Linked DNA regions of Homo sapiens: regions 1 and 3 are each linked to region 2. The links come from fine-mapping of genetic effects on gene expression. A gene starts in region 2. Each other region holds a variant in brackets. All regions are shown on one strand. Distances are between the middles of the regions. Region 1 overlaps INPP5A (inositol polyphosphate-5-phosphatase A). Region 2 holds the start of INPP5A (inositol polyphosphate-5-phosphatase A). Region 3 has its middle 37 kb from the start of LINC02870.

Region 1 (4,122 bases), 69 kb after region 2:
GAGTGTAGACTGGAAGCAGGTAAGGACAGAGCAGGGAGATCCCTGAGGAGGGAGTGGGAAGGGACTGGGGATGGGGAAGAAGTGGATCCCCCAGGAGGGAGTGGGGAAGGGGCTGGGGATGGGGAAGAAGTGGATCCCCCAGGAGGGAGTGGGGGAGGGGCTGGGGATGGGGAAGAAGTGGATCCCCCAGGAGGGAGTGGGGGAGGGGCTGGGGATGGGGAGTGGGTGGATCCCCCAGGAGTGAGGGGGAAGCAGCTGGGGATGGGGAGGGGATGGGGAGGGCATTGATCCCCCAGGAGTGAGGGGGAAGCGGCTGGGGGATGGGGAAGGGACAGGGAGGGAGTGGATCCCCAGGAGGGATGGGAAAGGGGCTGGGGATGGGGAGGGGATGGGGAGGGTGTGGATCCCTTGGAGGGATGGGGAAGGGGCTGGGGATGGGGAGGGGACAGGGAGGGCGTGGATCCCCTGGGGGATGTCCTGGAAGTGACACAGTGGCACTGAGGCCAAGGGAGGCTGGTGGGATGGTGGGATGGTGGGATGGGGCCCAGGAGGCCCTGGGAGCTTCCAAGCTGGGGTCAGCCAGGCAGACGCAGCAGCGCCACGCGGGCCAGAAAGTGGCCCCTGGGCAGGGCCCCATGGTCACCGTGGCCGTCACAGTGGCCCCGACTAGTGTTGGGGTGTGTGCCAAAGGCAAGAACTGAAGGCCTTGAGGGCCTTGTCTTTTTTTCACGTTTCTTCTCTTCCTTCTTTGGAGTGTTTTTGCTCTCATCTTTCATTTAGACTTTTGGTCTAATTATTTCACAGCCTTTGAGTGCCTCCTCATAAACAGTCAGCAAACACGGATGTCTTTGTTTAGAGCACCGTGTTAGGACTGTCTGGGCTTATTAACCTTAGTGGATCCACAGTCAATGTTGGGGGAAGTCATATCCACGGTTTAAATGAGGTCATGACCCATGAATTGGGCTGGAGCGCGTGTTACTGGGGCGAGGTGCACACAGTGAACGGTGTGTCCAGGTGTCCGCTGTCACATTTGTGCGTTTGGTGTTTAGGGTGGCTCCTGGGCAGGGCTGCTGGGCACGCAGCTGCAGCTGGATGTGGGGCTGGGACCCTCGATGGGGACTTGCTGGTAGGAGCTGGGGCCAAGGGAGGCTGTCCACGTGGGCTGAGGGTCCTCAGTGGCGGGACAGCGGCGTGGGTCAGTCGCCTCCCCTCCTGCCGGGTCCTCAGTGGCGGGACAGCGGCGTGGGTCAGTCGCCTCCCCTCCTGCCGGGTCCTCAGTGGCGGGACAGTGGCGTGGGCTGATGGCCTCCCCTCCTGCTGGGGCGGTTGCGTGCGTCCCACGAGGAGGTCCCTGGACCCAGAGGGCAGGGCATGGGGGTGCTCAGAGCCGCAGTGGGCGATTCTCTCCCTTCGCGTGTGTGTGTGCTGGGGTTGTGTGTCCTTGAAGCCTGGAGCCAGGGTGTTCTCGGCTCGGTCCTGTGATCTGTGAAGCTCTTGTTTCTTGTCAGGTTTTTTATTTTTCATTAATTTATCTAAAATTCAGTCTTCCTGCTTTTTAGGGTTCTTAGACCCGTCAGCAAGTGAACGGAGGAGCGCGCCTGGTGTGTGGCCAGCCTTGCGATGCTGTTGTGTTTGCGTGGGCGCGGAGTCTGGGCCCAGCTGCACTGGCGGCCTGCACGCCTTGGCCCCATGCCCACGGCCACGGAGGCTGAGACCAGGGCAGGGGCTTTAGTCCCGATGGGAGCGGGGGCAGGGCCTTGTTTATTGTTTTTAATCGCGGCAAAAACCCACAACATTAAATTTACCACCTTAACCGTTTCCGAGTGTGCAGTTCCTTAGTGCTAAGTACATTCACGTTGTTGCACGGATCTCTAGAACTTGTTCTCTCGCAAAATGGAAACTCTACCCTTTTAGATGCTGACTCTGTCCCCTCACGGTGGGCGATGTTGGAGCTGGGGTGCTTCCTGAGCGTGGGCGGCTTGTGCTGAGTGCTCGCGCTCAGCCTCGTCCGCGGTGACCTCCCTCCTCTTGGGTTTGAATGGCTGTGCTGCCCTTGGCCGGAGCTGGCACAGAGCCCAGGAGCAGCCAGGTGGCCTGGGGCTCAGCGGAGCGGTCAGGGTGGAGAGCGACTGGGCCGTCCCTTCTCCTGAAGCAGTGGCATTTTCAGGCTTGCGCTTAGCTCCTCCGATTCTGTCCAGGAGCTTCCTGGGGCCTGGGTCTCTGGCGGGGCTGGAGTTTCCTTGCGTGTGTGCACGTGTGTGCACGCCTGTGGCATGTGGTAGGTTTTCTGTTGATGGCTCTAGCAAGTGCTTTCTGAAGATTCTGACAGTTGTGACGGACTCTATAAAAGCCCCTTGCTCTTCACCCCAAACACACAGAAATGCCATATGCGACCATGATGTTTTGTACTCCACAAAGCTCAGCTTTGTCTA[G/C]TGCCTGTGAAGGGGCTTTGGCTCAGGCAGGGGCGGGTGTGGAAAGGTGCCACCGTCTTGCTTGTTGAAGCTGGGTTACTGGCTGAGCCGTCTCTTCCCTGGGAGGCTGGAGGCTGGAGCAACACAGAGCCTTCCCCTCCTCGCCACCCGTGTGGGGGCTGCGCGACGCTGCCCGAGCTTTCCTGAGACAGAGTGCATCGTGCACCATGTCCCTGGGACAGCACAGAGCGGAGCCCCCACACAGAGCGGGGTCCCCGCGTGGGCCTGGGGTTTCCCCGTGCGGGTGGAGCTCCTCCATGCGGGGTGGGCCCGGGCTGCGCCTCTGCTCCTGCCCCACGTTGTCTTCACAGGAGCTTGTCCTGGCTCTGTTTAGGGCTGTGCCATTGGTCTGACTGGCTTTTCTTTTTCTTCTTAATTTACAGCCAGAAAACCTGCAGAAGAACTGGCTTCGGGAATTTTACCAGGTAAGAACCACTGAAACGTGTTCTTTTGGATTCATTACTTAGCCAATAAGGTGCCTTTTTGCTTTGGCATTCCTCCATGGAGTCTGGTGTGTCTATGGGGAGCGCAGGCCTGGGCTGTGGCTGGGTCTCTCGGCTCCGCTGCCTGTGCTGGGCAACATGTTTCTGTGTCACAGTCGGTCCACTGCCCGCCTGCCGGTGAGCCTGGCCAGATCCTCCTCGGGCTCACTGTTCACATTCCGGCTCCCTCCCCGCTCCCCGCGGGGTTCAGAGAATCAGAGAACCTGGGGGCTCCCTCCAGGGCTGGGTGAGCATCCCCAGTGGGGCCGTGGAGAGCTGGCAGCGAGGCTGGGTGTGCTCCTCACCAGGTCCGGTCCGTGCAGCGCACTCTGTGCAGAGAGTGGGTGCTGGGCTGGGGGAGGCGACCGGTTGGAGGGTTTCGGGCTGGCACTGCCAGGCCGAGGCACGGACCCCCCTGTCTAATATGGGGCCGGTGTTTATGGAGCCCGGTACTGTGCTGTGCTCTGGTGTGGACGCTGCAGATGCCACTGTGAAGAGACAGGCTGGTGCCCTCGCAGGTCTTCATGGAAGGAGCCACCTGGGGCCTGTGGCCGAGCATGTGTGCCTGTGGGGTGGCGCCAGAGGCCTCTCTGAGGACTGGGTGCATGGGGGAGGCCAGGCAGGCGAGGAGGGCAACGTGGCCATGGGCATGACGGTGGCCAGGCTCGGCTCCAGGGGCTGGTGGTGAGGTCAGCTTCAGGATGGGGTGGCCTGGACGGTGGAGCTGCTCACATGCTCAGACCCACGCAAGGGCTGAGCCCGGGACTGAAATCCTGTTTCAGGTGTGTTTGGCTGCTGATTGGAGATGGGCTGGGGAGGCCAGAGTGGAGGCCCAGGGGCCCTCTGTGAGGGCATGGGGGTGTGGGACCTGGGGGGTGGCCCGACCTGGGCCTGAGGTGCTGGGCCAGAGGTGGAGCTGGGACAGCCAGGAGGGCTGGGGACCTCTGTGCCCTCGGGCCTGTGTCCTGCCTGCCAGTGCTCCCATGTGGTGAGGCTCCCAGCATGCAATGGTGCTCTGTAGCCGGCATCCAAGTCCCCCCATAGGGACAACGGCGTGTGTGTGCACGTGTGTGCGCATGTGTGTGCTTAGCACCTATGTGGTGAGGAAGCCATTGTTCTACAGGGACCTGATAAATCTCTCTCCGTAGAGTCTTTGGTCAGATGTGCAA
Region 2 (4,122 bases):
GGTGTGAGGGCACAGCCTGCGGGGAGAAGTGAGGAGGCAATGTCCCTTCTCAGAAAGCACGTTCCAGGGATCAGTGACACCCCCACATTTGGTTTCTACTAAGGGTACCCTTAGCATGTGCTGATTTTGTTAAAAAGAAAAATAAGCGACTACATCAGTCAGCTTCAGCTGCTGTAGCGAAATATCACAGGCTGGGAGGCTGAAACAAGACTTTTACTTCTCACAGTTCTGGGGGCTGGAAATCCAAGATCAAGTTCCAGCAGCGTTGGATTTCTGGTGCAGGGTTTGTGGCTGGCTGGGGTGAAGCTTCCCACTGTGCACTCACACTGCCACTTCTTTTGCACATGTAAGGGTGGGGACAGCACTGAGCCCTTTCTATTAAACACTAGCCCTATTGCACGACTTAACATTAAACACCAGCCCTACTGCACGACTTAACATTAATTACCCCCGCTAGCCCACCTCCGAATACAGTCACATTGGAGGTTAGGGCTTCAACCCATGAATTTGCGGGGTGGGGTGGGGTGGGGCGGGCGGAATTCAGTCTGTAGCAGGCACCTACTGACTAAAGTAGACATTGGTTTATACATCAAATGGATTTTGCTGGAGTCCTGCTCAGCGGTGGCCGTAAGGAGGAACCCTGGGGGTGTTAACACAAGCCAGTGATGCGGCCTCAGCACAGGCCTGGGGCCCGAGCCTGCAGCACCATTCCTGCCGCCCCGCCCTGGCAGCAGGTGTCTTCCTAGAACAGAACAAGCCCCTTTTGATGTCATTGGGCATTGCCTTGGCGGTTTACTCAGAAGCTGGAGGCTAGCCTCGCTAGAGCCCATTGCCAGGCCCTGACCGCCCCTAAATCTGTGTCCACAAAATCCTCCGGAGTGCCTGCTCCGCATGGTGGCCACTGGCCACACAGGGCTGCTGAGCACTGGAAGCGGCCTTGTGAGCTGCTGCCAAGAGGCAGGTGCCCGTGCAAAGCCTTCCTGTGAAGGAATCTCACTGAGGTTGTTAAATTCTGGTTACATGTTGAATGATGTATCTATCTATTGGGTTAAGTAAAACGTATTGTTAACTTTGGCTATTACTTGTTACCTTTAAAAAATGTAGCTACTGGAAGCTTTAAGATGACAAATGTGGTTCTCCTCCTCCATCTACAGGCATGTCCCGGTTCACGGCGGCTGTGTCCCCGCGGCCTCAGACCCAGGGTCCAGCCCATGCTCTGGCCCCTCCGGCGGCCAGGATCAGCATCGCTGCCCCGGGGCCCGCGCCGAGCCGGCTGCTCCTCCGTGCTCTGCGCTCCTGGGCCCGCACCAGCCCCCTCCCCTGGAGCCCCCTTCGTCCCTGCGAGGGTTCCCTGCACGCCCCGCGCTGAGACCCAGCCTGGCCCGGGCCGGAGCCCTCCGCGACGTCAGGATGCGCCTGGCCTCACGCCGCCTCCCCTCCGTCTTCTCTGGGCCGCAGCCGCTCCTCGTGAGTGAGGTCGCGGCCAGGGAGCCGGGTGGACGCGCCGGGAAGCTGCACGGTCCACGCTCCGTCTGCGCGGAGAGCCGGGCGCGCGTGGCCCGGCCCCTGCAGGCGCGACTGCCGCCGCCCCGGTGGGCTCCCCTCCCCCGCACGCCCGGCACGCGGCTGGACGACTGCGGCCGCGCGGGGGCTGGAACATCCCCTCAGAGCCGCAAGAGAGCGCACCCGCCGCCGGCGCCCGGAACCCAGGGCCCCTTTAAGAGGCGCCGCCGGAGCAGGGCCGTGACGTCATAGAAGTGCGAAGGGCGGAGTCTGTGCGCAGCCGCGGCGCGGGGGGCGGGGCGGGGGCGCGGCGTTCTTGCGGGCCTGACTGACAGGAGCGCCCTCCGGGAGCGACCAGTACTAGGCCGCCGGTCGCAAGAGCGCCCCGCGTAGGCCCCGCCCCGAAAGGAGGCCCCGCCCCGGGGCAGGCCCCGCCTCCACAAGGACACCAAGTCCCGCACAAGCCACGCCCCCCGCAGGCCCCGCCCCACTCTGTTCAGATCTAGGCCCAACTCAGGCTCCGCACCTCAAGGCTCCGCCCCCAGCAAGGCTCCGCCCCAGGCCCGGCTCCACCCCGCACAGGCCCCACCCCGAGTCAGGCTCCGCCCCGCCCAGGCCCCGCCCCGGGCTCGGCTCCGCGGGGCGGGACTTGCCCTCAGCCTGAGTCGGCGGCGGCTGCGGGAACTTTCCCAGCGGATCTAATGGCTGCGCGCGGGCCGCTGTGAGGCGCGGCGGCGAGCGACGGGCGCGGGGCCGCGGAGCAGCGAGCGAGCGAGCGAGCGCGAGGCCGGAGCCCCGGCCAGGCCCGGCCGACCCGCCGAGCCCGCGATGCGCCCCGGGGCCGCCCCCCGGCGCAGCTGACGCCCCGCGGCCCCGCGAAGACCCCGGCCGGCCGGTCCCGGAGGAAGCGGCCGCCGCCGCCGCCGCCCAGCCCAGCGCCCGCGCCGCCCGGGCACCATGGCGGGGAAGGCGGCCGCCCCGGGCACCGCGGTGCTGCTGGTCACGGCCAACGTGGGCTCGCTCTTCGACGACGTAAGTCCCCCGTGCCGGCGGCAGGCCCCAAGCCCGGAACCCCCGACCCTGACCCCGGGGTCCCGAACTGCAAGCCTTGGACCCTGGACCGTGAACCTCCAGACCCAGAGGCCCCAGACTCTGATCCCTGTACCCGGGACCCCAGACTCCTGTCCTGATTCCCAAGTCTGGGAGCCCAGACCCCTGTCTTGATCCCCAAGCCCGAGACCTGAAGACCTGGGCCCTGAATCCCCGAACCCCATCCTCCAGACTCCAGCAGCTGACCGTTGACCCTGGGACCCTGCCTCTGAACTCCTGTCTGCAAATCCTGACCTCGAAACTCCAATATTAAAACCCTGTCAGAACCCCTGTTAACAGTTCCTGGAACCCAAACCCCAGAAACCGGGTCTGTGCGCACCAAACCCAGCCCCAGCCCTGATTTCCGAATCCTCAGAACCCTGGCCCTGGAATGCCCATCCCCAACCCTGGCCCTGAACCCCAGGTCCATGGTCACTGGAACCACAAATCCTGACTGCAGAACTCTGGTTACAGAACCTGCTCTCAAACGTCTGTCTCTGGTCCCTGAGCCCTGGACCCCAAACCCTGAAACATAACCACAAACCCTAACCCAGGAACTTCTGACACAGGGCTGTGGCCCCAACCTCCTGTCCCTGTTCCCCAATCACTGAATTCTAGCCCTAGAATCCCAGCCTTCATACTGTGGCCCTTTGCCTCTAAAGCCAATCTAGCCTGACTCTGAACCCTGAATTTCAACCTCAGGCCCCAGCTTATGGCCCTGAACACTTGTCCTTGACCCCTGAACCTGGAACCCTGGTTCCAGAATCAGGCCCCAAACCCAATTCTGGACCCTGCCCCTAACTCTGGTTCCTAGATCCCATCCTTGGCCCCTTCCTCCAACAAGCTCCTGCCCCTGAATCCTGAATCCTGAATCCTGGTCTTAAAGCCTGGGCCTTGAGCCTGCAGAATTCCCAAACCCTAACCCTTGACTCCCACCCCTGGCCCCTGTCCTCTGAGCCTAGGCCCTCCACTCTGGCTGTCAGCCCCAGCTCCTGGATGCCTGGGTGCCGGCCTCACTGTCTGTCTGTCCCTGCAGGGCCAGAGGGTAGGGTGCCCCCATTTAACCCTGCCACTTAGTATCTCTTTAGTTCGTAAATAAGGGAAGTCTGTAAAGCACTGTAGGACTTTATATTTCTTGTTTATTGAAGAAAAAGATGCTGAGAAGCTCTTCAGGGCCAGAAAGGGGATGCTGACTGCCTATGGCCTTTACCTTCTAGGGCCCCTCCCACCCAAGCCTCATTCCCACCCAGGATCCCAGGGTGCCCCCATCTCTGGAGAGACCAGGGAGCTGAGGCCCAGGGCGCACTGGGAGCTCCCCAGAGGCAGGCCGGTCTGACCTAGTTTGGCGTTTCAGCCACGGTGCCACCCTGCTGTTGGTACTCCTGCTGCCAACCCAAATAAAGCAGAGTGAGGCTCCAAGTGGCCCAGATGGAGGCCGTGGAGCCACGGACGCTCCCTCCCTCCCTCCCTCCCTCCCTAGGTGAACAGTGGGGCACCGCACCAGCTTTATGACGGATGTGTGCCACTGAT
Region 3 (4,122 bases), 55 kb before region 2:
CGGCACTTCCACAATTAGGATGCACGATGTGGAGGCAGAGGTGGGGGAGAAGGGAAGGCTCTTCTTTACAGACAAATGTCAGCTAATAGGTGTAGATGGCAGAAAAAAGTGCAGGCAGAGAGGCAAGAAACGATGAGAACCTCCGTATATGGAAGTGCAGGCTGCCCTGAGGGAGACCGAGGAAGGTCGGAGAGCTTGGGCAAGACTTGAAGGAGAGTCTAGGTCAACTGGAGCCGAGACACTCTCCCTGCCTGGGGCACCGGGGAAGTTGGCATCCTTCTGAGTCGTCGAGCAGTGCCCTACTGAGACACTGAGCTGTGGTGTAGGGTTTCCTAGCTATGTGGACAAATGAATGGACATCCCTCCCAGGCTTGGCACCCTGGCAGTCCAAGGGGCCTTCCTGTTCTCAAAGTACATGCAGCACTTGGGAAAAGTAGCTGCACATCCCACAGGAAGTGAGTGAGCTGACTTCAGTCAGTTCATGCTGTAGCAACAATGTTTCCTGACCAGGATGCAACGAGCTAACAGTCAACATGAGATCTTACAACTGATCTTAATAATTTGAGATAAGAAGAAGCTTTCAGGGGCTGGGCGCGGTGGCTCACGCCTGTAATCCCAGCACTTTGGGAGGCCAAGGTGGGTGGATCACAATGTCAGGAGATCGAGACCATCCTGGCTTACACGGTGAAACCCCGTCTCTACTAAAATTACAAAAAAAAAAAAAAATTAGCCAGGTGTGCTGGCGGGCACCTGTAGTCCCAGCTACTCGGGAGGCTGAGGCAGGAGAATTGCTTGAACCTGGGAGGCGGAGCTTGCAGTGAGCCGAGATCACGCCACTGCACTCCAGTCTGGGCGACAGAGCCAGACTCCATCTCAAAAAAAAAAAAAAAAAAAAAAGAAGTAGAACCTTCCAAAATTACCATTTATTTGGAAAATAAAATATACACTTCTAAAAGCCGTGAGTTAAAGAATAACACATGATAGAAATGAGAAATGCTTAGAACCAGATTACAGTGGGTGCACTGCCTATTATGTATGAGTACATGAAACTCTCCACGTACATATGGAATATTGCAAAGTGCAACTAACTCACTCCAGAAATTAGACAGATTTAAAAGAAGGAAACAATGGAAATTAATGAGCCAAGCCTTCAACGTAAGTGACAAAAAGAACAAGAGGCTAAAGCAATAAAAGCAGGACAAAGATACAAATATGAGCAGAAACTCAGGAAATAGAAAATAAAAGGCAAATCGGGTGGATCAAAGACAAATGTTGGCTGATTATTAGAAAGATGAAGGTGACAGACGCCACTGGCAAAAACAGAGAGAGAGAGAACAGAGTCGGTATTAGGAATGAAAAGGAGAATCATCAAACACAAGCAGAAGTTTAAAGATAAACATATCAGGAACCAGTCCGTTTGAAATCTTTTCCAAAACAGGTAAGATTTTAAATGGATACATTCCCAGAAAATTGTGGAAAATGAATACATTCGCAGAAGATCATGACAAAAAATTGATTCAAGAAGGAAGAGATGACCTAATAATTCTACAACCATTAAAGACATTTAACCATTGATTTAAAATCTCCTGCAAGAAAACTCAGGTTGACAGGTGTGGGAGACCAGAACGCGCCTCCTGAAAAGCAGGCCTGTGGGGCTGAGGGCCTCTGCGAGGAGCAACGGAGGTAGAGCTCCCGGTCCCCCCTCGACACAGGACACGGGCTTACAAAGACGAAGGAATCCTGCCCCCCTCTACTAGGGAGAACAAAGGTTAACCACTGAAGACAGCTTCAGACCCTCATCACCTGCACCTGAAGATAGTTCCAGAATAATCTGCACCAACAAGCTTTATGAAGGAGCCTTTATCTGACATTTATTCGCTTTTCCTCAAGTTCCTGCCTACAGAGACTCCAAGTCTTTCTTTTTTGCCCAGAACTTCTCTGAAAATCTATCGCTCTTTGTTAAAGATGCTCTACAAGCTGGAATTCAAAGCCGCCTCGTTGAGAGTGACTCATGCCCTAGGCATCTCCCACACATACGTGAAACACACATGTTAATAAGCCTCTGCTTGTTTTTCTTCTATTCATCTCTGTTTTGTAAGAGGGATCTGTTC[C/T]GACTAAGAACTCACAGGGTTCTTATTTTCCCCTGCCCAGGGTTGCACAGATGTGTTCTACCAAACTTTCAAGGAACAGAACGTTCCAGTCTTTTACAAACTCTTCCTGAGAGTAGAAAGGAGGGAGCACTCCCTGAATCATTGTGAAGCCATTACAATCTTTAAAACAAACCAGACAAGAATAGTCCAAGAAAAATCATGTTTTAGTACAATCTCACTCCCAAACAAAGACGTACAAACCCTAAACAAATCATTAGCACACTGAACTCACGGCGTCTATTTTTAAAAGGTGATGACACTCATGACTGTGTTGGGATTTGCTGGGATTATCCCAGGAATGTGAGTGATTTAGACCGAGAAGATCGATAACTTTCATTCACCGCATGAACGGATTAAAGGGGAAGACAGGCTCATCCCAGTGGATGCCGAAAATCACTCAACACAACTCAAAACACACTCAGGAAAAAAGGAAGAGACTTTTCAAACTTAGAAATGGGAAACTTACCAAAAACCTACAGCAGACCAAAAATGGGGAAACACCGGTGCATCCCCTTTAAAAATCCAGAGCCCAGGCTGGGCACGGTGGCTCACGTCTGTAATCCCAGCACTTTGGGAGGCCGGGGTGGGCGGATCACGAGGTCAGGAGATGGAGACCATCTTGGCTAACACGGTGAAACCCCGTCTCTACTAAAAATACAAAAAATTAGCCAGGTGTGGTGGCGGGCGCCTGTAATCCCAGCTACTCAGGAGGCTGAGGCAGGAGAATGGCGTGAACACGGGAGGTGGAGCTTGCAGTGAGCCGAGATTGCACCACTGCCCTCTAGCCTGGGTGACAGAGTGAGACTCCGTCAAAAAAAAAAAAAAAATCCAGAGCCAAGGTGGGAATACTCTCCCCTCAGCGGCACGGCAGAGATCCAGCCGAGGTTTAACGCAGGGCAGCCTCACACCTTGTCATTCACTGGAACAGCAGTGAAGAGAACCAGGATTGGAAAGGAAGAACATAATTCATAAATTCCAGGCAATGATTATTACAAAAACAAAATGAATCTGTAGAGAAATTACTAAAAGAAAGTTAACAAGGTAGCCGGCTTACAAGATCCACATAAAAAGCCATTGTATTTCTTAACATCAGCAAATAGAAAACATAATTCAAATAAAGATAGTTACAATAATAATAATGAATTATAAGAAGTGACTCGATATAAAAATGGACAAAGTATTTGATAGCCATGTTCCTCAGAAAGATATACAAACGACCAATAAGCTCAGGAAGAGATGCTCAAGGTCATTAGTCGTTAGGAGAATGCAAACAGAAACCCCAATGAGACACCAGGTCCTACCCGTGAGGACAGCTGCAAAAAGTAATCCAAGTAGTCCTAATACAAGGAAAATAACAGCAGTTGGTGAGGGTGTAGAGGAATTGGGACCCCCACAGATTGCTGGTGGGAATGTAAAATGGGGCTGCAGCTGTGGACAGCAGTTTGGTGGTTCCTCAAAAAGTTAAACAGGCCGAACTCGGTGGCTCACACCGGGAATCCCAGCACTTTGGGAGGCCAAGGTGGGAGGATCACTTGAGCCCAGGAGATCAAGACCAGCCTTGGCAACATAGAGAGACCCCGTCTCTACAAAGAAATAAATTTAAAAATGGCCAGGCGTGATGACAGAGCCCTGTAGTCCCAGCTACTTAGGAGGTTGAGGTTGGAGGATCGCTTGAGCCTGAGAGATCAAGGCTGCAGTGAACCTTGGTAATGCCACTGCCCTCCAGCCTAGGTGACAGAGCTAGAACCTGTCTGAAAAAAAAGTTAAACAGAATTACCATATGATGCAGCAATTCCATTCCTAGGTCTATACCTTAAAGCCATATGTCGTATAACTTAATTAATTAATTAATTAATATATTATTTATTTATTTTGAGACGGATTCTCACTCTGTCGCCCAGGCTGGAGTGCAGTGGCGCGATCTCGGCTCACTGCAAGCTCCACCTCCCGGGTTCACACCATTCTCCTGCCT

Evidence for each region.
Region 1: its variant is fine-mapped to the expression of INPP5A in tibial artery (GTEx, PIP 0.96). The same link has a PIP of 0.9 or more in whole blood.
Region 3: its variant is fine-mapped to the expression of INPP5A in fibroblasts (GTEx, PIP above 0.99).

The regions. Positions count from the first base shown.
Region 1 is chr10:132,605,061-132,609,182 of GRCh38, forward strand. INPP5A (inositol polyphosphate-5-phosphatase A) reads left to right here. Exons shown (of 16, transcript NM_005539.5): 2 at 2,855-2,896. Among named protein-coding and RNA genes, the nearest start is that of INPP5A, 69 kb to the left of the region's middle. RefSeq lists an enhancer at 3,043-3,544. The variant G/C (reference allele first, on the strand shown) is at 2,433.
Region 2 is chr10:132,535,637-132,539,758 of GRCh38, forward strand. It overlaps INPP5A (inositol polyphosphate-5-phosphatase A), which reads left to right and starts at 2,151. Exons shown (of 16, transcript NM_005539.5): 1 at 2,151-2,535. The coding sequence starts at 2,461. LOC107984282 (a long non-coding RNA gene) reads right to left here and starts at 1,287. Exons shown (of 4, transcript NR_158224.1): 1 at 1,090-1,287. RefSeq lists a silencer at 1,172-2,271 and an enhancer at 3,052-3,101.
Region 3 is chr10:132,480,200-132,484,321 of GRCh38, forward strand. No RefSeq gene overlaps it. Among named protein-coding and RNA genes, the nearest start is that of LINC02870, 37 kb to the left of the region's middle. RefSeq lists an enhancer at 173-772. The variant C/T (reference allele first, on the strand shown) is at 2,112.